2 separate regions of the Homo sapiens genome follow, and region 1 is linked to region 2. The links come from fine-mapping of genetic effects on gene expression. A gene starts in region 2. The other region holds a variant in brackets. All regions are shown on one strand. Distances are between the middles of the regions. Region 1 overlaps RAPH1 (Ras association (RalGDS/AF-6) and pleckstrin homology domains 1). Region 2 holds the start of RAPH1 (Ras association (RalGDS/AF-6) and pleckstrin homology domains 1).

Region 1 (16,951 bases), 33 kb after region 2:
GTTTGAGAGTTTGTTTTTGTAGTTTCAGTGACCCTGGAAGAAAATGTCTTAATTGCCTGGGGGATGCCACCCTGGAGAATACTCTCTGCTCTCCTGCAGAGCATCCTTTTTCCCATTTCTATTCTCTTAATCCTCTGGCTTCTTTATGAATGGTCCCTACCTCTACTACAGCCTTTGGTAAGGGATTACTTCCTATTACCCTCAAGAACCTCAAGAGGACTTTTTTTTTTTTTTTTTTTTTTTTTGAGATGGAGTTTTGCTCTATCACCCAGGCTGCAGTGCAGTGGCATGATCTCAGCTCACTGCAACCTCTGCCTCCCAGGTTCAAGCAATTTTCCTACGTTAGCCTCCTGAGCAGCTGGGATTACAGGCAGGCGCCGACAGTATTAAATGTATCTTTTATCAGTAATGAGTGGTAAAATGTCTTTCCTAGGAATTTTACATTTATGAGATAGAAACAGAAAGCAGACATCTTGAAGCTTTTTTGGTTGTATGTATTAGGCCATTCTCATATTACTATAAAGAAATACCTGAGACTGTATAATTTATAAGTAAAAGAGGTTTAATTGGCTCATGGTTCTGCAGGCTATACAGGAAGCATGATGCTGGCATCTGCTCTGCTTCTGGGGAGACCTCAGAAAGCTTATACAATCATGGTAGAAGGTGAAGGGGGAACAAGGCAGGTGACATGGCCGGAGCAGGGGCAAGAGTAGGGGGGAGGTGCCACACACTTTTAAATGACCACATCTCACAAGAACTCACTATTGAGAGGACAGCACCAAGGGGATGGTATTAAACTATTCATGAGAAACCACCTCCATGATCCAATCACCTCACACCAGGCCCCACCTCCAACATTAGGGATTACATTTGACATGAGATTTGCAGGGATACCCATCCAAACTATATCAGTGGGGGATATTTGATCAACTTTAGTAATACCTCCTATCTGGATGTTGGGAAGAGGTCAGGAAATATGTTAATGAATAATGCAAAATAGAAGTGATTTACTGTTTTACTCCTTTTGTTCTGACAGTAACAAAAGTAACACAGTTTTAATAATCAAAACATCTTTAAAAATACCCATCTTGAAGTCTGTATTTACTGTAAGCATTTCAATTTAATTAAATACTAACTTTGGATTTGGAACCGAATTCTGATTTTTTTCTGACCTACTTGTGATGTTAACGAACTTTTTAAAAAATTACTTATTTTTTTAGGGCCGGGTGTGGTGGCTCACGCCTGTAATCCAGGCACTTTGGGAGGCCAAGGTGGTTGGATCCCTTGAGGCCAGGGGTTTGAGAACAACATGGCAAAATCTCATCTCTATAAAAATACAAAAATTAGTCAGGTGTGGTGGTGTGCACCTGTAATCCCAGCTACTCAGGAGGCTGAGGCACAAGAATCACTTGAACCTGGGAGGCAGAGGTTGCAGTGAGCCAAGATCGTGTCACCACACTCCAGCCTGAGTGACAGAGCGACTCTCTCTTAAAAAAAAAAAAAAAAAAAAAAAATTATTTTTTAAATGACTCTTTTTGCATCTGTGAAAGGATGTCTGATGAATAAATATCTTTCTAAGATGCTAAATTTTTATAAATAAGCTAAAAAGGTTAACTGAGTAAGCAAGGCAAATATACTTTAGGAAAGGGAGCATATGCATACATAATAAAAACCATATATTGGAGAAATACACAATTATTTTTCAGTGTCCTTAGACTAAACGTATTAATTTAGTAAAAGTGTTTTATAGCTTGTCTTTTTTTCCTTTTCCTTAAATTTATTTCTGAAATTTAGATGATCTATTTGTTAACACACTGTTTTCCTAATTATAGCTTTCTGAGGGTAAAGACTTTTTTCTTTTTATCTCTCCTCCTTCATCTCTCTCTTTCTTAATTTATTTTGATATACTGTTGACACTTGAACAACACAGGTTTGCACTGTGTGGGTCTGCTTGTATGCAGATTTTTTTTCAGCCAAACATGGATCATTGTGGTGATGTGAAACCTACGTATATGGAGGGTTTACTGGACTTGAGTATGCATGATTTGGGTATAGGTGGAGGTCCTGGAACCAGTCCCCCTGGTGCCAAGGGAAAACTGTAATTTCAAACCTACAGAAAAGTTGTAAGAAGAATATAAACAACCTCAAGGCCAGGCGTGGTGGCTCACGCCTGTAATTCCAACACTTTGGGAGGCCGAGGCAGGCGGATCACCTGAGGTTGGGAGTTCGAGACCAGCCTGACCAACATGGAGAAACCCTGTCTCTACTAAAAATACAAAATTAGCCAGGCATGGTGGTGCATGCCTGTAACCCCAGTGTATATTTCTTTCTTTCTTCCTTTTTTTTTTTTTTTTTTTTTGAGACAGAGTCTTGCTCTGTTGCCCAGGCTGGAGTGCAGTGGCGCTATCTCAGCTCACTATACAAGCTCTGCCTCCCGGGTTTACGCCATTCTCCTGCCTCAGCCTCCCAAGTAGCTGGGACTACAGGCACCCACCACCACATGTGGCTAATTTTTTTGTATTTTTTTTTTTAAGTAGGGATGGGGTTTCACTGTGTTAGCCAGGATGGTCTTGATCTCCTGACCTGGTGATCCGCCCGCCTCAGCCTCCCAAAGTGCTGGGATTACAGGCATGAGCCACCGTGCCCGGCCCCAGTGTATATTTCTTAAGATCAAAGATGTTCTCTTACGTCACTGCAATACTGTTATCAAAATCAGGAAATGTAACATTGATTCAATACTGTGATCTAATCCAGTCATATTTTGTCAACTGTTCCAACATTGTCCTTATGGCTATGTTTAGATATTTTCCCTGGGTCTAAGATCCAGTCCAGGTTCAAGCATTGTATTTAGTTGTCATGTCTCTTTAAGTTCCATTGAATATGGAACATTTCCTTAGCCTTTCTTTGTTTCTTGGCCATCACATTATTGAAAAGTGTTGGCCAATTATTTTGTAAAATGTCTCTTATGATTTGATTCAGGTACTGCATTTTTTGCAGGAATAACTACAGTGATGTTGTATCCTTCCCAATGCATTATAACTGGAACCCTCTGATGTTGGTTTGCCTTTGTAGTGATGATATTTTGGTCACTTGGTTAAGGTTGTCTTCTGAGTAATTTGTGGGGAGATATTTTGAGAATATATGTCATCAAATTTTCACCTACTAGTTTTAGCCTCTATTGATGATTCTTGCCTTGATTTTTTAAAACTTAGCAACTTGGTTTTTAAATTACTTTTAAAATAAATACTTTATAATTATAACAGTGGTTGCAAAATGGTGATTTTTTTTTGTCATTTCATCTACATTAAGTAGTTGGCATTCTACAGTAAGTAAGAGCTTTCTTCTTTACTGTGTATATTTTATTTAATTCAATATGGATTTTGTGGCCAGGCACGGTGGCACACACCTGTAATCCCAGCACTTTGGGAGGCCGAGGTGGGCGTATCACCTGAGGTCAGGAGTTCAAGACCAGCCTGGTCAACATGGTGAAACCCTGTCTCTACTAAAAATAAAAAAATTAGCCGGGTGTGGTGGCAGGCGCCTGTAATCCCAGCTACTTGGGAGTCTGGGGCAGGAGAATCGCTTGAACCTGGGAGGTGGAGGTTGCAATGAGTTGAGATTGTGCCATTGCACTCCAGCCTGGGCAACCCAGAGTGAAAGTTCATCTCAAAAAAAAAAAAAATATATATATATATATATCTATATATATATATATATATATATAGATATAGATAGATATATAGATATAGATATATATATAGATATATAGATATAGATATATATATAGATATATATATCTAGATATATATAGATATATATATAGATATATATATATATAGATATATATCTATATATGGATTTTAGTCAGTGGATTATAATTTGTTTCTATCATAATTTATTTCAGTATTTAACTTTTCACAGATTAGACCCCTGATCTGGGCCTTCAGGCTGGTTCCTGTGTCCATTTGACATGTGCCTATCATTAATTGAGGACTTTTTGCCACTAGATGATGTTCTAGAGGCTCATCTTGTTTTTTGTTTTTTGTTTTTTGTTTTTTTTTGAGACGGAGTCTCGCTCTGTTGCCCAGGCTGGAGTGTGCAGTGGCACGATCTCTGCTCACTGCAAGATCTCATCTTGTTTTTTTTCCCTGCCCTGCCCTGGAATTACTACTCCAGGTGTCTGTTACTTTTTGTGTAGAGTGTATACAGTATTTTGAAACCAAAAACTGGGAACCAAGTGTGCTAATTAATTACCTGGTGTCATTGCCACCAGGCTTTTTCAGTGGACATACCTACAAACACATAATACACACATCTCTGTCTTTATTTCTGCCCATCTTTTTGTCTGTTTGAAACCTTGAGTTTATTTATACTGATAATTCAATACCTAATCCAAATGACTTCCAAGCTATAGGCTACGTCTATTTGTTACCCCCTTTCCTCTCAAAGCATGGGTTGCCTCTGGGATTGGATTTCTTGCCAGTGCGTTTGGCCATCTGGTAGGGGAATAGGTAGGACAAAAGTGAAGAAAAATACTGCTGCCTCCCTCGTGAGGCTTTCCATAGTTTCAAGACCGTTTTCTCTAAGAGGAATGAAGTTGCAGCTTCTACTTCTAGTTGAGGCTGGAGTGGACATGCACAACATCAGCTGTCTGCAAAAATAACTAAATAGCTACACTATGTAGTATAACAGCAAAAGGTCTGAAGTGTGGAGCAGCCGTGTGTGTGTGTGCGTGCGCGCGCGTGTGTGTATAGTAACTATTCATTTGCTAGGGCTGCAGTAACAAATTACTACACGCTGAGTGGCTTAAAGCAACAGAAATTTACTGTCTCACAGCTCTTGAAATTGAGAATCTGGAATATAAACAACACAATCAATTATTTGTTGTTTTTCAGTTTTTATAGTTTTTTATCTACTCTGTGGTTTCAGATAATGCTTTATGGCATATTGTGTAATAGTTAATTATAAGATAATCAGAACTTTTTATATATAGGGATGTTAGGGGTTTCTTTGTAGAGCGTTGAACTAAATTGTATTTTTCCACTTTAGTGATATGGTTTGGCTGTGTCCCCACCCAAATCTCAACTTCAGTTGTATCTCTCAGAATTCCTCTGTGTTGTGGGAGGGACCCGGGGGGGGTAATTTAATCATGGCGGCCAGTCTTTCTTGTGCTAGTCTTGTGATAGTGAATAAGTCTCATGAGATTTGATGGGTTTATCAGGGGTTTCCACTTTTGCTTCTTCCACATTTTCTCTTGCCACCGCCATGTAAGAAGTGCCTTTTGCCTCCCACCATGATTCTGAGGCCTCCCCAGCCATGTGGAACTGTGAGTCCAATTAAACCTCTTTTTCTTCCCAATCTCAGGTTTGTCTTCATCAGCAGCCTGAAAATGGACTAATGCAGTAAATTGGTACCAGTAGAGTGTGGCGTTGCTGAAAAGATACCCAAAAACGTAGAAGTGTCTTTGGAACTGGGTAACAGGCAGAGGCTGGAACAGTTTGGAGGGCTCAGAAGAAGACAGGAAAATGTAGGAAAGTGTGAAACTGTCTGGAGACTTGTTGAATGGCTTTGACAAAAATGCTGATAGTGATATGAACAATAAGATCCAAGCTGAGGTGGTCTCAGATGGAGATGAGGAACTTGTTGGGAACTGGAGCAAAGGTGACTCTCATTATGTTTTAGCAAAGACACTGGCGGCATTTTGCCCCTGCGCTAGAGATTTGTAGAACTTTGAAATTGAGAGAGATGATTTAGGGTATCTGATGGAAGAAATTTCAAAGCAGCAAACCATTCAAAAGGTGACTTGGGTGCTATTAAAAGCATTCTGTTTTAAAGGAGAAACAGCATAAAAGTTCAGGAAATTTTCTGCCTGATGATGCAGTAGAAAAGACAAACTTTTTTTTTTTTTTTAGGAGAAATTCAATCCAGCTGCAGAAATTTGCATAAATAGCAAGGAGCCTAATGTTAATCCCCAAGACCAGGGAAAATGTCTCCAGGCCATGTCAGAGACCGTCAGGTCAGCCCCCTCCCATCACAGGGCCCAGAGGCCCAGGAGGAAAAAGTGGTTTCGTGGGCCGGGCCCAGGATCCCTGTGCTGTGTGCAGCCTAGGGACTTGGTGCCCTGTGTCCCAGCCACTCCAGCTGTGGCTGAAAGGGGCCAACATAGAGCTCAGGCTGTGGCTTCAGAGGGTGGAAGCCCCAAGCCTTGGCAGCTTCCATGTGGTGTTGAGCCTGCGGGTGCACAGAAGTCAAGAACTGAGGTTTAGAAACTTCGGCCTAGATTTCAGAAGATGTATAGAAACACCTGGATGCCTAGGCAAAAGTTTGCTGCAGGGGTGGGGCTCTCATGGAGAACCTCTCCTGGGACAGTGCGGAAGGGAAATGTGGGGTTGGGGCCCCCACACAGAGTCCCCACTGGGGCACTGCCTAGTGGAGCTGTGAGAAGAGGGCTATTGTCCTCCAGACCCCAGAATGGTAGATCTACAGACAGCTTGCACTGTGCACTTGGAAAAGCCTCAGACACTCAATGCCAGCCCGTGAAAGCAGCCAGGAGGGAGGCTGTACCCTGCAAAGCCACAGGGGCAGAGCTGCCCAAGACCATGGGAACCCACCTTTTGCATCAGCGTGACCAGGATGTGAGACCTGGAGCCAAAGGAGATCATTTTGGAGCTTTAAAATTTGGCTGCCCCACTGGCTTTTGGACTTTCATGGGCCCTGTAACCCCTTTGTTTTGGCCAAGTTCTCCCATTTGGAACGGCTGTATTTACCCAATACCTGTACCCCCATTGTATCTGGGAAGTAACTAGCTTGCTTTTGATTTTATAGGCTCATAGGCAGAAGGGACTTGCCTTGTCTCAGATGGGACTTTGGACTGTGGACTTTCAGGTTAATACTGAAATTAGTTAAGACTTTGGGAGACTGTTGGGAAGGCATGATTGGTTTTGAAATGTGAGGACATGAGATTTGGAGGGGCCAAATGATATGGTTTGGCTGTGTCCCCACCCAAATCTCAACTTGAATTGTATCTCCCAGAATTCCTATGTGTTGTGGGAGGGGCCCAGGGGGAGATAATTGAATCTTGGGGGCCAGTCTTTCTTGTGCTAATCTTGTGATAGTGAATAAGTTCATGAGATCTGATGGGTTTATCATGGGTTTCCACTTTTGCTTCTTCACATTTTGTCTTGCCACTGCCATGATTCTGAGGCCCTCCCAGCCATGTGGAACTGTACGTCCAGTTAAACCTCTTTCTTCCCAGTCTCTGGTATGTCTTTATCAGCAGCATGAAAACAGACTAATACAGATGGGGAGTTCCTGTTTGCGGTTTAATAGATTAAGAATATCCAATATTATGAAAATCTAATGTAAATAAAGGAATGCTTATTCTCATTAAAATTGGTTCATATTTTCATTTTTTTGTTTGTTTGTTTGTTTGTTTTTGAGACAGAGTCTCGCTCTGTCACCCAGCCTGGAATGCAATGGCGGGATCTTGGCTCACTGCAACCTCTACCTCCTGGATTCAAGTGATTCTCCTGCCTCAGCCTCCCGAGTAGCTGGGATTACAGGTGCCTGCCAGCCACTACATCCAGCTAATTTTTGTATTTTTAGTAGAGATAGGGTTTCACCTTGTTAGGCTGGTCTCGAACTCCTGACCTAAGGTGATCCGCCTGCCTCGGCCTCCCAAAGTGCTGGGATTACAGGTGTGAGCCACTGTGCCCGGCCTGGTTCACCTTTCTGTAAAAGGAATTCTTTTTTTTTTTTTTTGGGACGGAGTCTCACTCTGTTGCCTAGGCTGGAGTGCAGTGGCGAGATCTCGGCTCACTGCAAGCTCCACCTCCAGGGTTCACGCCATTCTTCTGCCTCAGCCTCCCGAGTAGCTAGGACTACAGGCACCTGCCACCACACCCGGCTAATTTTTGTATTTTTAGTAGAGGCGGGGTTTCACCGTGTTAGCCAGGATGGTCTCAATCTCCTGACCTCGTGATCCGCCCGCCTCGGCCTCCCAAATTCTTTTTCTAAGGGGTTCATTTAAGTGCCTGATAAATAAAACATTAATAAAATTGCCTTTGAATTTGATTTATAACTCTTAGGCAATACAATCTCTACCAACTGTTAAAATAGTTCTAGTTTGTTTTTATGCTTCATTATGTGATCTTAAATTACTTCACAGTTAATGTAGATGATAGTGAAGAGGATGTGTTAGTTACATCCTGGGTTGTCAGAAATGAAGGCTTAAATCAAAGAGATGGCATAAGGGTGTAAATCATCTTTCCTAGTACTTCTCTGTCCTCTGGGTAAAGAAGAATTTACCGTGACTGGCCCAAGAATAGCATACCTCTCTGTTAGGAAGGTTTGGTTCCATCTGGCAGTTTTACAAAACTGAGTTCCAGGTGTCAGCTCACTCTGAGGACCAGGCCATCCATGCAAGTTCCCTGGTAGCTAGTTAATTCAGGCTTGCTTCTATGAAGCTTCTGAATAGCATAGCACATTGCTTCCTTCTTAGTCCCTTTCAACACATAGGAGACTGTAG[C/T]TTCCTTTAAATTTGCTTCATGCACTGGTCTACAAAAGGAACTTTGTTGCTAGAGAATTTGTTAATCAAGATATCTTATATCTGTCGTCCCAGCTACTCAGGGAGGCTGAGGCAGGAGGACTGCTTGAGCCCAGAAGGTCAAGGCTGCAGGGAGCCCTGTTCTCCCACAGTTAGTATTAATGTTCTTTGAAGTTACAGAATTTGTATTTGTTTTTTTGCCTTTTTTTTTTTTTTTTTTCATAATGCTTAGCTTGATGCTTTGTAGGCAGAGTATTTTCGAAGGTTTGGATCCTAAGTAGAACCTTTCTGTAGGCCCTTTCTATTGAGGGTCACTAATCTACAGAGGAAACTTCAGTGATGGATATATAAAAAGCAACTTTTAACTTTTTTTTTTAACTCATCTACTTTATAAATTAAGAGCAAAAGTTATAAAATTATGTTTATTTTTTTAAGAGATGAGGTCTCGCCATGTGGCCCAGGCAGGTCTCAAACTCCTGGGCTCAAGCAGTCTGCCCGCCTTGGCCTCCCAAAGTTGCTAGGATTACTGGCGTGAGCCACCATACCTGACCATGCAAATTCATTTTTAAAACTTCCCAGACGGTTTATTAAATTCCCAGTTTCCATTTGGGCAATTTATAAATAACAGCACTTCATTCACAGCAGAACTAAAGGTCTTGTTTTAAAATAGTGTAGTTGTAGGTAATGAGAGAAAGAAACCAAGCATACCAGGCACTGCCCCATCTGATAAGTAATTAATCCCCTACAGTTATCTTTCCATTTTACATTATGAGTGTCCTACTTCTTTCCTTTCCTTTCCCTTCTCTGCTCTGACTTCCTCTCTCCTCCTTTTGATGAGTCCTCTTCCTCTTTTTGTGCCTTACTAAATTTAACATTTTTTTTCTTATTGTTTCTCTAGTCTGATTTACGTTTCCTTCCTCTTGCTTTTATTTTGCAACAGTTGTAACTTGCACAGTTGGGGTACTCCTTGAACATGGAAGTCTTCACCTCCCTCCTGCCCCTTTCTCTAGTGCATGTTTTTCTTTAGAATTATTTTTAAGGTTAGAACAGCATAGGAGGTGTTTCTAAAACCATTTTTGTGAGAAAGCTACTGAAACATAACTGGAAATAAAGAACTAAAATTTATCTGTAAATGAATAACTGTGAGAGGAAGCATGAGACTATGGTAATGGAAGAGGAATAATTGGGGTGTGTTAATGATGGATCCTCATGGTACCTGATTTCCTTATGGTTTTAAGGAGTACTCATTCTAGTACTTATTTAAGGAGTCCACATTTACCTTTAACCAAATTGTGGTTACACAAAATGGCATTACTTACTGTCTTGCAAGAGCTCCCAGTAATTATTAAACAACATAGTTGTTTATATTTTGTTAAACTTAAGTGAGTATAAGCAATACCCTGGGTAACTTGTTGAAAATATTCCATCCTCTTGACATTAGTATTCAGTAGATCTTGAGTGGGCCATTTTAAAACTGACTTTAAAAGATGCACCCCAGGTAATTTTGATGCAGGTCATCAACAAACCACAATTGGAATAACATTGCCCTACAGGATAAAGTCCAAAGTTTTTGGTATGGCTTAGGATTTTGCCGCTTCCTCCTCTCTAGCCTCATTTTCCATGAGTCTGTACCACCCATCCTATGCTTCAGAAATGCTAAGTCACTTTGAGTTCTAACATGTTGTTCTCACGTCTTTATACCCTTGTATATGTTGGTTCCTCTGCCTAAAACACCCTTCTCCTTTCTCTTACATATTCACTCTTCAGGTCTCCACTGAAGCATCACCACTTTCCTATCTTCTCAAACTGAGTTAAACTACGCTCACTTAACATACCTCTTTTATAGCACTTAACAGAGTGTTTCATCATTGTTGGTTTCCTTTTCTGTTCCCTACTAGATTATATGTTCCTTGAGGACAGAGGTTGTCATGTTCATCTCTGTTCCTCCAGTGTCTGGCATGGTGAATGTTCAATGAAATCAAAGCTTCTCTTGTGTCTTTGGAACATTGAGCACTCTAGACCCATGGAAATGGCTCTGATAGCACTCTGCTGTCCTGTATCTGAGCATGTTCATGTGGTTTTAAGTTTAGAGGGCTGACCCAAGATGGTGCCCAGCCTATAAGAAAATGTCTGGGGGCACCTCATTTGATGTGTATGGTTAGTGGAAATTAAGCTGTATTGGGGAATTGGAGAATAAGGTTCATCAACATCAGCATTTAGAGAATGGAGAGTGGTTTTAGAGTGTGAATTCTTTAAGAAATGTTGTAGGACCTAAGTTTTTTTTGGAAAGTCTCTGAGTAAGTTTCTTAAGTTTTTTTTTTCTTTGAGATGGAGTTCACTCGTCACTCAGGCTGGAGAGCAATGGCACGATCTTGGCTCACTGCAGCCTCTGCCTCCTGGGTTCCAGCGATTCTCCTGCCTCAGCCTCTCAAGTAGCTGGGATTACAGGCGCCCGCCACCATGCCCAGCTAATTTTTGTAGAGACGGGGTTTCACTATCTTGGCCATGCTAGTCTTGAACTCCTGACCTCAGGTGATCCATCCGCCTTGGCCTCCCAAAGTGCTGGGATTACAGGTGTGAGCCACTGCACCCGGCCAGTTTTTTTTTTTTTGTTGCTGTTAAACTAATCCACATAGGGACAAATTGAAAATAGGACAAAATTGGCAAAAGTAACTTAAGTAGTTAACGTTCAATAGATACTTTCAAAATTTCTGTTAATTTTATGTTTCTCTGTCATTGCTGTCATGTTCTCTAGCGATATTTTCCTTAAGTCGGCAGTAGTAGTCTAGATCAAAACAAAACTATAAATGAAAATTTTTAAAGGGATTTTTAAAATAGCCTGTTTGAACAGTAGGAAAAAAACTCAGTTTAAAACACGCTAGCTTTGGATGCAGAGTCTGTACAGTCATGTGTCATTTAATGATGAAGATACTTCCTGAGAAATGCTTCATTAAGCACTTGTTGGGCCAGCATAATAAATTGTACTTACACAAACCCAGGTGGTATAGTCTACTCCACACCTAGGCTGTAGAGTATAGCCTGTTACTCCTAGGCTACAACCTGTACAGCATGTTACTGTACTGAACACTATAGACAATTGTAATACAATGGTATCTAAACCTAGAAAAGGTACAGTAAAAATACTTATGGGACCACCGTATAAGCAGTCTGTCATTGATCTGAACATCATTATGAGCACATGACTGTAGTTCTCTTTGGCTCCATTGTAATTTAAATTATTCCTTTAATTTGAACTATTTTATATTTATCTTACAATGTTATTTTCGTGTTGTTTTATTTTTCCCAGTATGGCATTTTTTTTATGGGCAGTTACACTCTGTTCTCAGAAGTCCAGGATTTAAACCTTTCTTAAAATCATTTTTAAAAATTTGAACTCTTGGTTTAAATGATATCTAATGTGGAAGCCCTATCTGTAAGATGCCTGAAATCGGAGGTGTTGTTTGAAACAGCAGACCTGGAGTGCTGTCCTCTAAGCCCTTCTCCAAGAACGGAGCTTGCCACCCTTTCTGATTAGCTTTCCTCATTTATAAAATGGGAATGATATAATACCTGCCTATCACAATGGTTCGTGGAGGCTTATGACTAATGTTCTCTCCCTGTTCTCTTTGATTATAACTTCCTCTTAGTGTGTGTTACGATGTTCATACATCACAGATTTTCCTGATGATGAGTCACCTAAATATCATGTGACCACATTTTTACTATGGAGAATATAGTCACCATAAACCCAGTGCCTTGCGTATTATTGCCTAAAATACTCATTAAAGTTACTAAAGCTGCTGTTTCTGCCAATAGTGACATAATGGTATCTGTTGGACAACAGTGCTGCAGGCCCAGTTGTTTTAAATGTACTTAAGAGATATAAAATGTAATTAAGAATAAGTATTACTCTCTCAAAACAGAATTCCTCCTAGGATATTTTCTGGGTTATTCCAATGTGTTTAGTTTGAAAGATTAGGAAGTAAAAGCAAGTATATTCCAGATTATATTACTTATTAACCTTCTTTATGAAAACTGGCTATTACTGCTCCTGAGTGTTCTCAAACTAGCACCTATTTGAGTAATTAAGTCATCTGGTCAGATGAGGTTTTTCTTTTCAGTAACATTTTATGTTTTTCCTGGGTAGATCACTTAATGAACTCTGATACCAAGTTTCTGTTGAGATTGACCTATCAATTATATAGTAATGAATAAAATCTTAGAAATAATATTGTTACAAATTGTAAAAACCAAATCTTCTTAAGAATCACATTTATGAATTGGGAAATTGGTAGATCCATTTTTCACTTGCCAGGGTAGAATGACCTGATTTATATATGATTAGAGTGATAAAAGATTAAGAAATGGAAATTATCAGTTTCTATTAGAGATATATTTATTAGAGATATTGGTTAGCTGTGGTTCTTCCCAGTATTAGGAGAATTAGAAAATTATTTCCCTTAAGTAATTAAATGAGATATGATATGATTTTCAGCATCTGAAAACTAAATTCAGTTTAATTTTGTAACATTATTTGACCCTTTCTGCAAAATTTTATATAGTGAAATAAGATTGAAAATTTAACTTGATGATACCATGTCAGATAATTAGATTCCTTACATTTTCTCCTAACCTTTAAGGATCCCAGATATAATTTTGTGGATTGCTGCTTTGAAGATACCAGTCCATGTGTGCTGCTGCAATAAAATTCCTGAGACTGGGTAATATATAAAGAACAGAAATTAATTTTCTTACTATTCTGGAGGCTGGGAAGTACATTATTAAAACACTGGCATTTGGTGTCTGGTGAGGGCTTGTTGCTGGCTTCCTCCACAGGGAGGCACGAGATGTGCTCTTGCATAGCAGAAGAGTGGAAGAACAAAGTACTCCAGTGCTTCATGAAATCTCTTTTATAAAATCCTTAATACCATTAATAAAGAAGGAGCCTTTATGGCCCAATCACTTCTTTAAGGCCCCACCCCTTAATACTATCACATTGGCAACACTTGAGTTTTGGAAGGGACACATTAACACCATGGCATATGTATATCAAGTTAGTAAAGATTAGGCATATCTTTTTTAATGGAATGCCCATACACCATATATAATCTTGGAGGAATTGCTTAAACCAGCTGACAGGCTATATTCCAAATATTGCCTAGATCTACCATAACAAAATTCGTGTTTTAGAAATGTGAGTCAAGAGTATTTAATGTAACATATGGTGATGATGTTCATTGTGTCCCTGGGACAGAAGTTGAAGGAAAAGGGATTGTGGTCAAATAACTTAGGAATATGCTGGTTTTTCTAACAAATAAAATTTTATCAGATTTTAGTCAGTAACTATGATATTAAGAAACATAAAATACCTACCATAACTTTGTAAACCAGGGTTTATAATCTGCTAACTTGAAGAAAAAAAACATTTAATTTGTTTCAAGTTCATACTAACATGCCTGCCTGATTTTAATTTTAATTTTGGAATATGCTGGCTGGTTTAAGCAAAGCTAGTGTTTATTTGAAGATTTTCCAGGGCCTTTAATATTGAAATATTTATATTTATCAGATTAATCAGTCATTGATCTTACATTGTTTTATGTAATTTTTCTTCCCATCTTCTCAAAATAATGTGCAAGTTCCATGTCAGATATCACACTATTTTATTTATTTATTTTTTGAGACGGAGTTTCACTCTTGTTGCCCACACTGGAGTGCAGTGGCATGTTCTCGGCTCTCTGCAACCTCTGTCTCCCAGGGTCAAGTGATTCTCCTGGCTCAGCCTCCCAGGTAGCTGGGATTACAGACATGCACCACCACGCCCTGCCAATTTTGTATTTTTAGTAGAGACGGGGTTTTGCCATGTTGGCCAGGCTGGTTTCAAACCCCTGACCACAGGTTGATCCACCCGCCTCGGCCTCCCAAAGTGCTGGAATTACAGGCGTGAGCCACCACGCCCAGCCACACTATTTTATTAATGGGAAGAAGGAAGATAATTTCTTCTTTCAAGGGACTTATATTTGAAAAGTCACCACATAACAGGATTTGGATCTGGATTTAGAAGTTTTCAATTCTGTTTCCTTTTTGGGTTTTGTTGGAACTGATGAGGAAGTAAGGTAGAGAAAGAAGACAAATGGGATAGAAAGTGAGGGTAGGAGGGTAGAATAGAAAGAAACAAAACTAGATTAAGATTTTTGTTTTGTCAAATTTTCTCTTAAATACTTGTTGGACTAAGGTTTTGCAGGGTACCTATTGGTATCTAAACAGATTTTTACAGAATAAACAGGACAATAATTTGCTCCATTAAAGTCTTCTGAAATGGCTTCTTTGTGGTGTTTGGGTGTCCTAGGATCTAGTAGTGGAGAGAACTGTACTACTGTTATGTCCTCTGCTGATTGAAAGGGGTGCTCTGTTAATTTTTTTAGTAATGCGATTCTGGTCATAATTTGATACTGTTGGCTTTTCTTTTACAGTTTCCTAAAAAATTTGAAACTTTATTCTTTGTTTCTACTCACTTGTGAACACTGTCTCCATTAATGACTTAAGATTTTCTTTTAGAATGTAATTTCTAGTTTTGAAGATTTGACTTCAGAGGCATATAATATATATCAGAGCATATATGGCATAATTTTTCAAGTTAAACCTGTAACTTACTATTCATTCTACACAAATGTCTGTATTTCAGATGGAGCAGCTATCAGATGAAGAAATTGATCATGGTGCTGAAGAAGACAGTGACAAGGAAGATCAGGACCTGGACAAAATGTTTGGAGCCTGGCTTGGAGAACTAGACAAACTCACTCAGGTGAGTAGTGCTTGAAAAACTGGTTGAGGATTTGAAGTCACCATTGTGTTAAAAGTTTAATGTGCAGAAGAGGATATGGATATAAGTTAAATTTTAAAGTATTGCCAGAAAGGAAGAAATGTTCGAAGTATTGACAAGTAAATGAAGTCATTCTAGAACAGAAGATATTAAGAATCTATGGTTATTTTAAGGATGTTAAAAAAAATACTTGTGAGAGAGGCTCTGTTCATCTAGAGGGGTTACTTAATATATGTTTCATAAATATGAGATAATTAGCTAAAAACTTTTAAAGCCTGAAATTCAAAAGTCTAAATTTTAGAAAACCCTGTTACCTTAGTAAATTTGAATACATTTTCAACATAAATAATTTCCTTCCACGTAAATATTTTCTGTTTTTCTTTTTTTTTTTCTTTTTTTTTTTTTTGAGACGGAGTCTTGCTCTTGTCATCCAGGCTGGAGTGCAGTGGCGCAATCTTGGCTCACCGCAAGCTCCGTCTCCGGGGTTCACGCCATTCTCCTGCCTCAGCCTCCCGAGTAGCTGGGACTACAGGCGCCCGCCACCACGCCCGGCTAATTTTTTGTATTTTTTAGTAGAGACGGGGTTTCACTGTGTTAGCCAGGATGGTCTCGATCTCCTGACCTCGTGATCTGCCCACCTCAGCCTCCCAAAGTGCTGGGATTACAGGCGTGAGCCACCATGCCTGGCCCCATGTAAATATTTTCTATGACATGATTGTAGAATACTGACAAAACCTAATTCTGGGCTGCATTTTAAAACAGTGGCAAAATCTTTTCATTTTGCTTTATTCGATCTTGGGTTTTTAAAGAAGGTGACCTTGTCCTCTAAACCAGCACACTTTTTAGAATAAAAGGGTACTGTTATTATTGCCCCAGTAATACATTATATTCACTGTGTGAAGATGGTTATGTTTATTAAATAAATTTAACTTCATGGCAATGAGAACATTAGAACAAAACTTATTTACTCATAAATAATGTCTTTGGAAAGAACATTTGTGTAAAATTGCGTAGGTATGAGATTCCTTAACTAAAGGAAAAGCAAAGTGGGCAAGGTGGAAGCTTAAATTACTAGCAGCTTATTTCTGCAGCAATCTAGAATTCAAAGTGATAAACTCTTCGTGTAATTCTTGCTAGATCATTTTGAAAGGCAGACATCTTTGTGACCATAATCTGTTAATACTGTATTTTGGGGGGATTTTTTTTTTTCTTTTTTCTTTTTTTTTTTTTTTTTTTTTTTTTTTGAGATAGAGTCTCACTCCTGTCGCCCAGGCTGGAGTGCAGTGGTGTGATCTCAGCTCAGTGCAACCACCGCCTCCCGGGTTCAAGCAATTCTCCTGTCTCAGCCTCCCAGGTAGCTGGGATTACAGGCATGCGCCACCATGCCCAGCTGGTTTTGTATTTTTATTAGAGACAGAGTTTCACCATGTTAGCCAAGCTGATCTTGAACTCCTGACCTAGGTAATCCACCTGCCTCGGCCTCTCAAACTGCTGGGATTACAGGTGGGAGCCACCACACCTGGCCAGGGGAGAATGTTTTCAACTCCTACTAGGATTTCATAGGTATCATTCCCTTCATCTCTAAT
Region 2 (16,951 bases):
CACATGCAAGAAGCAGAAATATACTTAAAGGCAAGGATCAAGTGTTCTGCAGTTGTTAATGTTTGACTGGGAGGAATGAGATGTCTCTGATTTGGGCCATATGAGGCCCTTGATTCACCCCTGTATTACTACCCCTAACTCTGTTTCTCCTCTTGGCATTCAGATTCTAAGTGTCAGCTAAGTATCATTTTTTCCATGAAGTTATCTTAACCTGCTTTAACGTCTGTTGAATTCCCTCTTCCCTTAACTCCTACTGTACTTACAGTCTGTATCAGAGCTTAATATTTAGTTGTTCTCTGGTTATTTCATATGTTCTTGTCTCGTGAGTAAAATTTCTTGAATGTAGAGATCCCCTTTTAAAGTAAAATCAGCCAGGCACGGTGGCTCAAGCCTGTAATCCCAGCATTTTGGGAGGCCGAGGTGGGTGGATCACGAGGTCGGGAGATCGAGACCATCCTGGCTAACACGGTGAAACCCCGTGTCTACTAAAAATACAAAAAGATTAGCCAGGCGTGGTGGCGGGCGCCTGTAGTCCCAGCTACTCGGGAGGCTGAGGCAGGAGAATGGAGTGAACCCAGGAGGTGGAGCTTGCAGTGAGCCGAAATCGCGCCACTGCCCTCCAGCCTGGGCAACAGAGAGAAACTCCATCTCAAAAAATAAATAAATAAATAAAATAAAGTAAAATCAACTATTTTTAAATAATATACATTTTATATTGTTGTTTTCCTCAACATTTTAAGAGATTTATCTTCATAAATATCGACAGTGCAATTCATTTAATTGTCAATTAAAGAATACAAATTTGTTGTTAAAAGATAAAGTAGGAAAAGAAAGTACCACAATCATACCACTCTGCAATAAACACTTTGTCTTCTTGCATTTCCTTCTAGGTTTTTCCCATATGTTTTCTCATGGGTTCATATTGTACATAATGTTTGTAACTTTTTAATCAACATATTGTGAACATCTTTTCATTATCAAAAAAAATCTACAAATCATCATTTTCTTTCTTTCTTTCTTTTTTTTTTGAGGCAGAGTCTCACTCTGTCATCCAGGCTGGAGTGCAGTGGTGCAATCTTGGCTCACTGCAATCTCTGCCTCCCAGGCTCAAGCAATTCTCCCACCTCAGCCTCCCAAGTAGCTGGGATTACAGGTGCACGCCACCACACCCAGCTAATTTTTGTATTTTTAGTAGAGACGGGGTTTCACCATGTTGGCCAGTCTGATCTTGAACACCTGACCTCAGGTGATCTGCCCACCTTGGCTTCCCAAAGTGCTGGGATTACAGGTGTGAGCCACCATGCTCAGCCTTCATTTTCTGTCCTTTTTTTTTTTTTTTTAAGACAGAGTCTTGCTCTGTCACCAAGCTGGAGTGCAGTGGCATGATCTTAGCTCACTGCAGCCTCTTCCTCCCTGGTTCAAACCATTCCCCTGCCTCAGCCTCCTGAGTAGCTGGGACTACAGGCATGCACCACTACGCCTGGCTAATTTTTTGTATTTTTAGTAGAGATGAGTTTCACCATGTTGGTCAGGATGGCCTCGATCTCCTGACCTGGTGATTCGCCGGCCTCGGCCTTCCAAAATGCTGGGATTACAGGCGTGAGCCACCGCACCCAGCCACAGCCTTCATTTTCTTAAACAACCTCCCATGGCTAGACATTTAGGGGCTTTCCAAATATTTGTCATCATCCCACAATATCCCAGCTAATGTTTTGTTCTTACTCCTTTGAATATCTGTTGCCAAACTGCCCTATAGAAAAAGGTTGCAATGATTTATATTCCCACTTGCAGGTGTGAGAGTGCCTATTTCTTCCCATCCTTGTCAACGATGGGTGGAATGATTTTTAAAAATCAGAGACTATTTCATGTATTTCTCTAGAGATTCTAGACACAGCTGGAGACGCAGTGAATATTAAATAAATAAATGCAATTAATTTGATAAATGGATTAATAATAGTGTTTTTGCACTGGGCGCGGTGGCTCACACCTGTAATCCCAACACTTTGGGAGGCCAAGGCAGGCAGATCACGAAGTCAAGAGATTGAGACCATCCTGTCCAACATAGTGAAACCCCGTTTCTACTAAAAATACAAAAAAATGGCTGGGTATGGTGGTGTGTGCCTGTAGTCCCAGCTACTTGGGAGGCTGAGGCAGAAGAATCACTTGAACCCAGGAAGCAGAGGTTGCAGTGAGCTGAGATCGTGCCACTGCACTCCAGCCTGGTGACAGAGCGAGACTCTGTCTCAAAAATAATAATAGGCGCAGTGGCTCACGCCTGTAATCCCAACACTTTGGGAGGCCTTGGCGGGCAGATCATGAGGTCAGGAGATCGAGACCATCCTGGCTAACATGGTGAAACCCCGTCTCTACTAAAAATACAAAAAATTAGCTGGGCGTGGTGGCACGCGCCTGTAATCCCAGCTACTCTGGAGGCTGAGACAGGAGAATGGCGTGAACCTGGGAGGCAGAGCTTGCAGTGAGCCTAGATACCACCACTGCACACCAGCCTGGGTGACAGAGTGAGACTCCGTCTCAAAAAAAAAACACACAAAAAAAAACAAATAAATAAGATAAATAATAATAATAATAGTGTTTTCTCCATGACGTATAGCTACTGAAGTTTTAAAGTAAGTAATTACTGGCTGGGCTCAGTGACTCACACCTGTAATCCCAGCACTTTGGGAGGCCCAGGTGGGTGGAACATCTGAGGTCAGGAGTTCAAGACCAGCCTGGCCAACATGGTAAAACCCCATCTCTACTAAAAATACAAAAACTAGCTGGGCATGGTAATGCACACCTGCTGTCCCAGCTACTTGGGAGGCTGAGGCAGGAAAATCGCTTGAACTTGGGAGACAGAGGTGGCAGTGACCTGAGATTGTGCCACTGCACTCCAACCTGGGCAACAGAGTGAGACTCTGTCTCCAAAACAAATAAAAAATAAAGTAATTAATTACTCATTCACTCAACATATTTACACCGCATATGATTGTCTTGATCTGCCTACTAAAAATGAATATAGCATTCAGAAATGAAACAAATACTTTATAAAGTGCGAAACATAAATTAAAATGCTGATAACTTGTTTCAAAGATAATATCTATAGAAGCTACTCTTAAAATTTGTCCCAGAGTCCTAAGAGGTCTCCTGAAAAAAAATATTGTCTCATTTTTCTAAGAATAGGCAGTACTAAAATTCCTCCTTTGAGAATTAAGAATATGAATTTAGGATAAGAAAACTCTCTCATCCATTAGCTATTAGAGTTTTCAGAATCATGGGAATTGTGCCAGAGAGGAAGTCAAAATCTGGTGTGGATTTTCATAGTACCAGACATTTCCTTCCATGTGCAGGTGGAATAAAATCAACACTAAAATTTGGCCAGGCGCGGTGGCTCACGCCTGTAATCCCAGCACTTTGGGAGGCCAAGGTGGGTGGATCACGAGGTCAGGAGATCGAGACCATCCTGGCTAACACGGTGAAACACCGTCTCTACTGAAAATACCACAAAAAATTAGCCAGGCGTGGTGGCGGACGCCTGTAGTCCCAGCTACTCGGGAGGCTGAGGGAGGAGAATGGCGTGAACCCGGGAGGCAGAGCTTGCAGTGAGCCGAGTTTGTGCCACTGCACTCCAGCCTGGGCAACAGAGTGAGACTCCGTCTCAAAAAAACAAAATAAAACAAAACAAAAAAACACTAATATTTTTGGGGAGAGTTTTAATGTTTCTATCAATTCCTGAAAGTTTATTTTATTTAAAGCTACTTCAGGGATAGGACGACTAGATGAATATTCTATTTAGTTAGGCAATTTAATTTTATAAGTCTCCTGTTCAATTATCAGAAAGATCATATGAAGGTGATAATCGGTCCCACTTCTCCAATGTACAAATCTTTTTATCTTATGTAAAATATTAACCATTAAAAATTAGCATATCTTTAAAAATGACTGATTGGAAACATCATTTAAAACGATATATTCCATAATTTTTTATTCCTCTCCCCATGATTGGTGGAAGGTGCTGGAATTGAGTTTGTAACTCATAAAGCAGTATGTACTGGAAAGAGAATGTGACTGGGGTCAGAAGATACTGGACCTTAGTCCAGTATCTTCTAGTAATAGCTGTTTAACTTTAGACAAGTCACTTCATGCCTTAAGCTACAGCTTCCTTTACTATAAACCAAAAATCTGGTTTAGGTCAGCATTTCCCAAAGTATGTGCTGTGGAACACATGTCTTGTAAGATGTTCCATTGGAAAAAGGGTTTCATGGTTGAATACATTTGGAAAGCGCTTGTATATAATATCTACCTCAGAAATTCCCAGTGCACATTAAAATATTAAAACCACCAGAAATCTCTCTAGTTTAGAAACCCATTGAACTGTCTGGCATTCTCATTTGATTAAAGGAACTTAAAATTTTGAGGGGGAATCACATCTACTAAAATCCTGTGGGACTAGAGTTCCAAAGAACACTTGGGGAAATGATGGACTAAGATGCCTGGATTTATGGTACTATTCTTTCTCATACAGGTATTCAGCCAGTTCCCTGAAACCTGCTCTTTTCCCACGCTCTTTATTTCAGAGGTCACCACCATTCAGTCACTCTTCTAAACCAGAATCCTGAGAGTCATTCTAAATGTCTCTGTTGCATTCACTCCCTCATATCCAGTTATATATTCTGTAGATTCTACCTGTTTAATATATCTCCCATCTAGTCCCTCCTCGCCATTTTATGACCTCTTGATTTTATTGAGACCTGCAGCACACATCTCATTAGGATTCAGGTTGTTGCCATCACCTCCTAATTTTCTCCTGCTCCAGTCTGGTCTTCTTGGTCTCCAAAACACAAACTCAGTTGTTCTGGAGCTAAAATACTTCAAATATTTTATTATTTACTACATTTCCCAGAGTATCAAATTCAAATTCCTTAGTTTAACAAGAGCCCCTTCATGAATGAAGCCCTTCCTACCCTTTCCTCCAACCTCTTTGACTCTTCTCTATGCCTGTTCTGACAAAATGGAATTACTTACTAATACGGTTTGTCTCTGTGTCCCCACCCAAATCTCATCTTATAGCTCCCATAATTTCCACCTGCTGTAGGAGGGACCCAGTGGGAGATAGTTGAATCATGGGGGTGGGTCTTTCCCGTGCTGTTCTCATAATAGTGAATAAGTCTCATGAGATCTGATGGTTTTAAAAATGGGAGTTTCCCTGCACAAGCTCTCTTTTTGCCTGCTGCCATCCATGTAAGATGTGACTTGCTCCTCATCACCTTCTGCCATGATTGTGAGTCCTCCCCAGCCATGTGGAACTGTAAGTCCATTAAACCTCTTTTTCTTCCCAGTCTCAGGTATGTGTTTATCAGCAGCATGAAAACGGACTAATACACTTACGGTGCCTCTAAAGCATGGTGATGCTTGGTGCTTCCACACACCTGCAGAGATATTGTTTTCTTCGTTTGGAATGCTTGTTCCCTCCTTCTTCTGGTTAGCTCCTCCCTATCATTTAACATTCAGTTCAAGAATCTCCCCATCAGGAAGGCTTTCCTGATCTGGTAATGGACTTCCAGTCTAACAATGACTTCCTTACCTGCTTTACCCACTAGACTGTATGCTTTTTGTAGGCAGGAAGCATCATGCCACGTCTTTCTTGTCTTTGTATTCCTGGGCCTTAATTGTAGCTTAATAAACTCTGATTGAATGAACGAATGATTTAATGGTTTAAAGAAACTGATGAGAACACTCTTTTCTCAATGACTGAAAGTGACCTTTTTTCTCTTTTAATTAACCTTGATCTTAGGCTAAGCACTTGGAGAAGAGTTGGCTAAGACCTATGTAAAAGGCACTCAATGGTCTATTTTTTTTTTTTTTCTGAGATGGAGTCTCACTCTTGTCACCCAGGTTGGAGTGCAATGGCAGGATCTTGGCTCACTGCAAGCTCCACTCCCAAGTTCAAGTGATTCTCCTGCCTCAGCCTCCTGAGTAGCTGGGATTACAGGCACCCGCCACCATGCTCAGCTCATTTTTGTATTTTTAGTAGAGATGGGATTTCACCATGTTGGCCAGGCTAGTCTCCAACTCCTGACCTCAGGTGATCCGCCCACCTCAGCCTCCCAAAGTGCTGGGATTACAGGTGCGAGCCACCACTCCTGGCTTCAATCGTCTATTTTTTTAAGGAGGTTTAAATGAATCATCTTCCTTGTAAGGTATCACACAGCCTAGTACATTTAATGACAATAGGATTCATTAAGTTTGGCACCCAGGTGTGTCTAATGTCAACAAACTTGGTCACAAGGGAAATGAGGTGAAAGACTAGATACATTTGTATAAAATTATCACTTATGAAAAATTTTAAAGCATTTATTAATTTATAAATACTTATTGTGCAAGATACTATGCTAGATATTGTGGGAGATACAAGGATGAATAAAGTGTTGTATTATATTCACTTTTGGAGGATAACTTCTTGAAATAATTAGGTGGCAAATGATGATTCCCACAAGAAAGGAAGAGAAGTCTAAAAGAAGTTGGTCAGCAGGATCATCTTCATTTATAAGAGATAGTATTATTCTTTTATTATTTTTATTTTTTATTATACTTTAAGTTCTAGGGTACATGTGCACAACGTGCAGCTTTGTTACATATGTATACATGTGCCATGTTGGTGTGCTGCACCCATTAACTCATCATTTACATTAGGTATATCTCCTAATGCTATCCCTCCCCCCTCTCCATCCCCCCAACAGGCCCCTGTGTGATATATTCCCTGCTTTGTGTCCAAGTGTTCTCATTGTTCAAGTCCCACCTATGAGTGAGATCATGTGGTGTTTGGTTTTCTGTCCTTGCGATAGTTTGCTGAGAATGATGGTTTCCAGCTTCATCCATGTCCCTACAAAGGACATTAACTCAACCTTTTTTATGGCTGCATAGTATTCCGTGGTGTATATGTGCCACATTTTCTTAATCCAGTCAAGAGATAGTATTATTCTATACAAGAATATTGACATACCTACTGAACTTAAAATACAAAAGGGCAGTTATGTTTCAAAAGTACAGATATCTCAAGTGTGAAAGGCAGCCAGTATCTGTATTGTATGGTTCTAAATACCAATTTGAAACAGATTGTGTACCAGTTTGGAACAGATTGTACAAAAAAGACTGAAACCACTTGAAAGTCCTCAAGAATATCAGGAAGTAAGAATGTAATTAACCAAACCAGGATTTGGCCCCAGGACAGAGAAATGAACACTCTCATTCTTAGAGAGGGAGCTAGGATTTCAGGAATGTACAGTCAATGCTTTGTGAAAATTTAAATAAATTCTTAGCAAGCAGATGGGAAGACATGAAAAAGCAATGTTCATTGCAACCAATTTCAGGTCACACTCCCAATTTCTCAATTGTTTTAATGCTGTCAACAAACTTGCTTTGCATGTAGCCAAGCAAACATAACTTAGTTCCATTTGTTCCTTTCTTTGATCAACTTTAGGTGAAGGTCAAAATAAGGACATACTTAAAATCTAAAAGTCTGCCGAAGTCAAGCCTGCATCTAAAGAGGCAGCAGCTGAGCTTAGCGATAAGGAAAAATGCCGACACCTTACTACTACACAATTCCGATGGGGTGGGGGGACAGAAATTAAGGAGGCAGGATTAACAGATTTCGAAGTTTAAAAAGTAAAGGTCATCGAAATGTCCCGTTCCTAAGTTTCCCAATACATTCCATGAAACTGCAGAGACTTTTTGGCCAAAATGGGATTTCCTAAAGAAGGGCCTCACAGATCTCAACGACAATGGTCCTGTAAGTGACCGAGCCAACCCCGGATGCGTTTCTGGAGTCTCTGAATACACGGACAGCGTATAAAGGTGGATGCGTACAGCTCCCTGACAGAACTGCTGGAGGCTGCTGTGCCTCCCAGGGCGCTAGGACAGAGGCTGCTGGGCCGGCTTCCTATGAAAGGCGAGCAGGGGGTGGGGCAGCACTGGGATTTTCCTCCCCACTCATTCATTCTCTGATTCACTCGTTCCTGTAGGCGGCTCACAGGGACTTGCGGAGGAAAGGCGAGGCACGAGCGGAGCCGCGGTTGAGTGCGGCCGGGCGCGGCCGGGCGCCTGAAGGGAGGGCGGAGGGCCGGCGCGGGGCGCGGGCTAGGGAAGGGCGGCGGGCGCGGCGGCCTGCGCCGGAAGTGAGTGGTTGGCGGCGGGCGGGGGCGGCGCGCGGTCCCGCGCGAGTCGGCCCTACAGTCGGCAGTCCGGCCCTCAACCCCGCCTTCTGCGTCTCGGCTGGACGCGAGCACACTCGGCTCCGCCGCCGCCGCCGCCGCCGCGGGGCGCTGCGGCCGCCCCGCCCCCGCTCCCGCCGCCGCCCGCCAGTCAGTCAGTCAGTCAGTCAGTCAGTCAGTCAGTCAGTCACTGAGCGCGCGGCGCGGGAGCTGCTGGCAGTCGCTGCGTCTCTGGCGAGGGAGCGCCGCGCCTGGGGAGGAGGCGGAGGCAGCGGCTGGAGGAGCGCGAGCGGCGGTTTCCTTGCCCGGGGCCGCGGGAAGGCCGACCGACTGCCGCGGTGAGTGGTTAGCCTCGCCCTCGGGGCCAGGGGGTAGGGAGCCGGCTGGGCGCGGGGCCGTGAGGCGCTCCTGCCGCTCCCGCCTCCATTTTCCCGGCGCCCGGCCCCGCCATCCGGGTGCGGTACGGTCGGCGGCAGCCTGGGGCGGGGTCGTTGCCAGGTTGGGGATCGGGCCGGGGCTGGCTGGACCGCTCCCGGCTGGTGGATGGAGGTCGGTGGGGCCTGGACTGCACCCTGCGCCCCTGGGGACCGCGACGGAGGGAGACAATGAGATAAGGGGCCGCCTGGGAGGGTGCGGTTAGGCTTCTCCGACCCAGCACCGGGGGCTGGTGGCCCGGGACCGCAGGGAGGAAAGGACTTTCCCCCGCCCAGCTGCAGAAACCAGCTACTGGATGTCGGGTTGCTTGGGTTTCGATGCCCCCATCTTTCATAGATGAGTTCAGTGCAGAGATTTTGAAAGGCGGGGCTCCTTCTGTGTCTTCTTTCTAATTAAACAGGATAAGTAATTGCTTCATTGCTTTTTAACCGCGTCTCCTCTTGCGGTCTGTATTATACATTCCCGCCGGAAATCCAAACTGCAATTCATGGGGGGGGGGGGGGGGTGGACGGAGGGAGGGGGCAGTGTGATAGTATTAGGATGCCTTCGTGTTAAGACAGGTTGAAAGATGTGGTTTTCTTAAGGCAGTGACTTAGGGTGTCCCCACTGTGTGAGCTGGAAACCGCATAAACCTTATTGCTTACAAGCTCGAAGACATGGTTTAATATGAAATAAGAGCCTTGAGGGAGGGTGTAAGTGTTACATGTGTCTTGCGTGTGTGCATTTCTTAAATTCTTTGGGAAGATCCGTTGGGGAAATCCGGGAGAATGGAAAAGTTCTTCACTCAATCTTCCAATAAGGGTTGATGTTGTCTGCAGCATTTCTCAGGGAAATGTGGAGAGCTGCTTATGTAGGTAAAGTCCACCGTTAAGGAACAGTAAAGGTAACGGGTTAGGGATGAGGCGTGATCGGATTATTAAAGAGTCAGTCCATGGGGATATTAAATTCAGCAAACATTTATGGAATACCTACTCTGTCAGTTAGGCTGGGTGACACCAGGTGAACAAGCATGGGGTGGTGGAAAGAGCTCTTCGGAGTGGGGGAAACCGTACGCCCTGGAATTGGCTTGCAATGTGAGTTGGATAAGCTATTGAACTCTGCAGTACGTTCCCTATCAGTAAAATGGGAATAACACCACCTGTTTACCTCCCCAGATGTTTTTCATGTAGATTAAATGAGATAATGTATGCAAAATGCGTAGCACCTTGCCTGGCATAGAGGTGTTTAACAGCACCTTAAATTCCTTTCCTCCTCGGGGTGGTTTTTTTGGGGGTGCGGTGCGGGGGGTTAGTGAATGTAGGTAAGTGTAATACAGTGAACTATATAGTAAAATGTTGAGGTATAGAATAGGAGAGCGAAGAAGAGAGATTAATTCTAAATTGAGGGAGGAATGCATGGAAGCCTCGGCATTTAAGTGAAACCTTTAAGGATGAGTAGGATTTCAGCAGATTCAGATGGGGAGGAGGACATTTCACATGGTGGTGCTATCCTTTGAGAGCCGAATTGAGGGGGAGGACCTTTGGGGGAGGGGCAAAATAGAGACGCTCAATAGCTTTTAACTCTTGTTGAGTCTGACCTTCAAAGATTGTCTCCGTTATTTTGCTTTTTGTGTGGTGAATTTCCCAGAAACCAGATGCAGCCCTACTCAAGTAAGTACAAAAAGCTTAATTCATGATTTTTTGGGTTAGACATTTTGTATAATTTAGATTGCTGTCTCCTGTTTGAATGTAATAAAGAATTATTTGTAGATGTTGCCTTATGATAAACGTTAGCTTTATTTGGTAGAAGCAGCAGCTTATTTTTCAGACTCAGAGGTCTCACTAAGATTATAGAGTATGTGACTGGGTGAAAGGAGTGGAGTAGTGGGCACTATTGGGTGTGTTTTCACAAATATTTAACTCTTTATTTTCCAAAGAGGTGTTTTTAACCATTGTCTTTGAGGATGATTATGTCTTTTGGTTTTGCTGCCCTTTGGTGCTCACCCCATAAATACTTACTAGATTGGCATCGTGGATAACTGTCACACTATTCACAGATTCTTGGTTACACATTGTAGAATCTCATGGCTTTGGTTGCCTTGGTTTGGAAGTAATTGAATGTCAACATTAGTATTGTTAATCCCAAACACTTAATTTTAGGAAAATTAATATTAGTGAAGCAAGATGTGACCTCAGGCAGATAACTTATCTTGGACTCTTAATTCCTTTACCTATAAAATGAGAAGTTTGGATTAGATCACTGCTTCTTAAACTGTTTCACTGAACTTGAGAATTTCAGAGATTCTGCAGATGTTTGACTTTAATCTCAATAAAAATGTATTTTAAACTTATAATAATAAAAAGTGGCCACTGTATGACGTACACTGTTTTAAACACTTTATATGTGATAATTTATTTAATTCTCGCCATAACCCTATGAAATAGAGTCTATTATTTGAGAAAATAGGCACAGACAATAAGTTGCCCAAAGACTGCAGAGCTATAGTGGCAGAGCTGGATTTGAAACCGGGCAGCCTAATTCTTAAGCTTGTATTCTTAACCATGTTTTTACACTGCCACTAAAGCAACACACACATATACTCTTTGAAAGAAATGTGGTAAAGTATGCATAACATACAAATTACCATTTTAACTATTTTTAAGTGTACAGTTCAGTGGCTTAAGTACATTATTGTGCCATCATCACCACCATCTCCAGAAATTTTTTATCATCCCAAACTGAAATTCTTCCCATTAAACAGTAATTCTACAAGCCACAGTGCGCTATGATCATGCACACTGGGTGACAGAGTGAGACCCTGTTCAAAAACAAAACAGTAACTATCCACTTCCCTCCCTCTACCCTACCCTCCTAGTAACAACTTTTCTACTTTTGACTCACACAATATTGATTCTTGTGTCTGGCTTATGTTACTTAACACACTGTCTTCAAGATCATCCATGTAGGATGTATCATAATTCCATTCCTTTTTCAGACTGATTAATATTCCGTTGTATGTATATACCACATTTATGGATATTTGGGTTGTTTCCACCTTTGGGGTACTGTGAATAATGCTGCCTTGAGTATTGGTATACAACTGTTTGAATCCCTCCTTTCGGTTCTTTTTTCAGTATTTCTATACACCCAGAAATGGGATTGCTAGATTGTATGCTAATTCTATATTTAATTTTTGAGGAACTGCCATATTGCATTCCACAGCAGCTGCACCATTTTACATTCCCACTAGCAATGCACAAAGGTTCCAGTTTCTCTGTATCTTGCCAACACTTCTTTTCTAGTGTTTTTTCTTTTTATGTTTTTGATAATAGCTATTCTAATGGGCGTGGTGTGGTATTTCATTGTGGTTTTGATTTGAATTTTCCTAATGATTAGGGATGTTGAGCATCTTTTCGTATGCTTATTGTCCATTTGTATATCTGAGGAGAAATGTCTATCCAAGTCCTTGACTCATTTTTAAAGTAGGTTGTTTTTTGGTGAGTTGTAGGAGTTCTTTGTACACTCTGGATATTAATCCCTTATCAAATATATGATTTGCAAACATTTTCTCCCATTTTATGGGTTATCTTTTCACTGTCTTGATAGTATCCTTTTGCACAAATTTTTTTTTTTATACTTCAAGTTCTGATGTACATATGCACAACGTGCAGGTTTGTTACATAGGTATACGTGTGCCATGTTTGTTTGCTGCCCCCATTGACTCGTCATTTACATTAGATATTTCTCCTAGTGCTATCCCTCCCCCAGCCCCCCACTCCCCAAACACAAAAGTTTTAAATTTTGAGGAAGTCCAATTTATTTTTTCTTCTGTCTGTGCTTTTGGTGTTATATCCAAGAGGCTGTAGCCAAATCCAATGTCATGAAGGTTTTCCCTGTTTTCTTTTAGGAGTTTTATAGTTTCAACTCTTATGTTTAGGTCTTTGATCCATTTGGGATTAATTTTTGCAAATGTGTTAGGTAAGGGTCCAACTTCATTCTTTTGCATATCCAGTTTTCCCAGCACCATTTGTTGAAAGGACTGTCCTTTCCCCATTGAATGGTTCTGGCACTCATACTCATTCATATATACACATGTGTATATTTATATGTATGCATGTGTGTATATAATTTTTTTTTTTTTTTGAGATGGAGTCTTACTCTGTTGCCCAGGCTGGAGTGCAATGGCACAATCTCAGCTCACTGCAACCTCTGCCTCCCAGGCTCAAGCGATTCTCCTGCCTCAGCCTCCCGAGTAGCTGGGATTACAGGCATGCACCACCGTGCCCAGCTCATTTTTGTATTTTTAGTAGAGACAGAGTTTCATCATGTTGCCCAGGCTGATCTTGAACTCCTGACCTCAGGTGATCTACCTACCTCGGCTTCCCAAAGTGCTGGGATTACAGGCGTGAGCCATCACGCTTGGCCTAAATTTTTTTTAACACATTGAAGACCATAGTGCTACATGGTTATACGTGGCTAATTTTGGGGGTGCGATGGGGCAGAAATTCCTAAGAATAAAGCTTTTCCTTTTATTGTTTAAAACATTTGGATCAGTGTATTTGAAGAGTATCCTGAAGACTGTAGATGGGACTGTTAAGAGCTGCAACTGCTTACCTGGGTGAAATCAAAACAAAGCATACAAAAATAAATGGATTGTTTAACATCTCTAACCCTTAGTTTATCTCTTTATTTGAGTTTACAATAAATTAACATAATGTATTTGAACATAAAATAGCAATGCTTTTGCCAGCTTTATATATTTGAGAGGCTGTGTAAAATTTCATCTGGATGAGTTTTGTTGTGAAATAGTTTTTAAAACTCCAGACTGTATGATCTCTAAAGCTTTTTCATATGCTCTTCTTGCTATTAAGGTATTTTTCATGCTTTAAGGCAGATGTCTTAAACTATATCACTTATGTCTTATAAATTGGCTTTTTGAAAAGTATATATGTATTTGCTCTTAATAAAATGCATACTGTTTTTCTGCTCTAAGCAGAGCTAGGCATAATAGAGAAATCTAAGATAGGTATTCTGTTCTCCACAATAGAGAGGATGCCAGTTTAGGTATAAAATACGAGGAATCAGTAGAAGATGACACTGAAGACGCAGGGACCACAAAGAAGCAGAAGGGTCTTTGAGTTGAAAATGGGTGAACAGATAAAGTTTACAAAAGGAGGAACAAGTCATCCCTTTAGATGAGAAGAAAAACAAGATCAGGAAGCCAAGGATTTACCATTATGTTAGACTATTAAAATTTAAGCCCCATGGTGAAGAATGGTGATAGCTAGCAAAAATTGGACTGTAAACATATTCAGTAGGCCCAGTATTATTGTAGAATCTTAAGTCAATTTTGCAATGGTATTTAAAACTTTGGCCGGGTGCAGTGGCTCATGCCTGTAATCCCAGCACTTTGGGAAGCCAAGGTGGGTGGATTGCCTGAGGTGGGGAGTTTGACACCAGCCTGACCAACATAGAGAAACCCCATCTCTACTAAAAATACAAAAAATTAGTCGGGCGTGGTGGCGCATGCCTGTAATCCCAGCTACTCAGGAGGCTGAGGCAGGAGAATTGCTTGAATCTGGGAGGTGGAGGTTGCGGTGAGCCGAGATGGCGCCATTGCACTCCAGCCTAGGCAACGAGAGCAAAACTCTGTCTCAAAACAAAACCAATAAAAAACTTGGATGCTTTTGGAAATTACTTTTAGAAGGATTTTACTGAGTTTGATAAGTGAAGAAAAGTATTAGGTTAAATCAGTAGAGCAGGCCAGGTGCGGTGGCTCATGCCTATAATCCTAGTATTTTGGGAGGCTGAGGCAGGTGGATCGCTTGAGCCCAGTTTGGGACCAGCCTGAACATGGCAAAACCCTGTCTCTACAAAATATACAAAAATTAGGCAGGCATGGTGATGTGTGCCTGTAGTTGCAGTTAACTCGGGAGGCTGAGATTGGGAGCATCACCTGAGCCTGGGAGGTCAAGGCTGCAATGACAGAGTGAGACCCTGTCTCAAAAAAAAAAAAAAAAAAAAAAAAATATATATATATATATATATATATATAGCAAAACAACCAGTAATATGACTTGAAAATATATTCTTTATATATCCCAAATTTTGCATGTTTCCCAAATATAATTTGTTCTAATTTTCCAATAATGTTTACTTTATAAAGGATAATTATTTCTTGGCTCATTTGGTTTATTTCATATTGTAACAAATGACATTGGAAACTGGTAAAGGAAATCAGTGATCCTACTTATCTGTGAATAGTGTACTTAATAAGCAGTAATGGTTCAAAATTTTTTTACCCTAAGTTTTTAGAATAAACATATACAGTTTAAGGCAGCAACAATGAATATGATACGTTATATTTGAAAAATCTTGGTTATAGTACTCATTAACACAGAAATTTCCAAATCTGGCTCTTGAATCTGTTTATTATGTTACTGGTTTTTAATGCTTCTCTTAGCTGACAAGGCAGCTCATGTAGGAACATATATCCAAAAAGAAGAAGTGCCTCTTCGGCTGTACTTTCTATTAGGAGATACTGTTAAGTTTGTATCCATCAATTATGCAGATTGGGCTAGTACAAAGTTTGTTCTCCCTATTTGTCAATCAGCTATTCTTGCAAATCAGTGTGAGGATTTGTATTTATAAAGTTTTAATAAATGGATTCAAAATCCACCAAAACTGTGTTTGGAAGGCATTTAAAAAGTTAGAAATGGCTTCTCTGTTCTTAGAGTGTGTAGATATGAGTATTTTAAGATGACACATTTTTTTTTTTTAGAATACAGCTATTTTCTTACTAAGTTTTAAAATGTCTCATTTACCTTTAAGGTACAGATGCATTAACCATGTTTCTGTTTTTAGAAACTATGTCTAGGTAGCATACTGCCACAGCACAGCCACTTACAACAGAAATTCAGCAAATTTAGAACTCTACTCTTTTTATAAAAGATAAATGCTTACTTCATCTTTAAATTGCACAATTTTTTAAATGATTTGCCATGAGACAAACCTGTTTGGTACAAAATACCATGATCACTCCTTAACAACATCAATAACAACATCCGTTAACACTTGGCTCTGTTCTTGCTTCAGTTTCTCTTTTATTCTGCTTTGCCCTTGGACTTAAACCTTACCCTCTCCTCCACCTTTGTTTCATTGAGGTCAAAGCAGCTGCTTCATGAAGGATTATATAATACAGTTTTCTATACTTTTTTTTTTTTTTTTTTTTTTTGAGATGGAGTTTCACTGTTGTTGCCCAGGCTGGAGTGCAATGGCTCAATCTTGGCTCACCACAACCTTCGCCTCCCGGGTTCAAGCGATTCTCCTGCCTCAGTCTCCCGAGCAGCTGGGAATACAGGCATGCGCCAACACGCCCGGCTAATTTTTTGTATTTTTAGTAGAGACGGGGTTACTCTGTGTTGGTCAGGCTGGTCTCGAACTCCTGACCTCAGGTGATCCGCCCACCTCAGCCTCCCAAAGTGCTGGGGTTACAGGCATGAGCTACCACGGCCAGCACATAAAACGTTTTTATTGAGGAAATCATTTACTGTTGAGAATATGTCTTCTCTGGAATACCAGTCTCTCGTAGAAGCTTACAAAAGGGTAGATCCTTTATTATTGAAAAAGAATCAATGTATTAAAGATAGTAATTACTATCACTCTAGCCTCACAATACCTACAATTATTTAATACCAGAATACTTATGTTACTTTGTATGGTGTGTGATTCTCTGACAGGTGGCCACGGTGAAGACGCCAGTGTCTGTATGTTAAGGATAAATATGTATTATATATAAAATACATGTGTGTATTAAGATAAGGATTAAATAAAAATAGAACTTCTAATAAGATGTTCGTATACCCCAGTGAATCATCACTCATACATCCTGGGGTATAAATGGAGGTAACCATTTTGGAAACTACTATACAGTCTTACTGAAGTATTGTTAGGCCAAGCACGGTGGCTCACGCCTGTAATCCCAGCACTTTGGGAGGCCAAGGTGGGCGGATCACCTGAGGTCAGGAGTTCTAGACCAGCCTGGCCAATGTGGCAAAACCCTGTCTCTACTAAAAACACAAAAATTAGCTGGGTGTGGTGGCATGTGCCTGTAATCCCAGCTACTCAGGAGGCTGAGGCAGGAGAATTGCTTGAACCTGGGAGGGAGAGGTTGCAGGAGCTGAGATCGCACCATTGCACTCCAGCCTGGGTGACAGAGCGAGACTCTGTCTCAAAAAAAAAAAAGAAAAAGAAAAATTGTTAATAATGAGCCTTTCATATTAAGTTCCACTTCATAGTGTATTGTATTTTTTTTTTTTTTTTTTTTTTGA

The links. PIP is the estimated chance that this variant, and not a neighbour inherited with it, causes the effect.
Region 1: its variant is fine-mapped to the expression of RAPH1 in whole blood (TOPMed, PIP above 0.99).

Annotation. Positions count from the first base shown.
Region 1 is chr2:203,493,630-203,510,580 of GRCh38, reverse strand. It overlaps RAPH1 (Ras association (RalGDS/AF-6) and pleckstrin homology domains 1), which reads left to right. Exons shown (of 14, transcript NM_213589.3): 2 at 15,228-15,347. The coding sequence starts at 15,228. Among named protein-coding and RNA genes, the nearest start is that of RAPH1, 33 kb to the left of the region's middle. The variant C/T (reference allele first, on the strand shown) is at 8,528.
Region 2 is chr2:203,526,705-203,543,655 of GRCh38, reverse strand. RAPH1 (Ras association (RalGDS/AF-6) and pleckstrin homology domains 1) reads left to right here and starts at 8,355. Exons shown (of 14, transcript NM_213589.3): 1 at 8,355-8,545. RefSeq lists silencers at 8,207-8,276, 8,327-8,416, 8,487-8,586.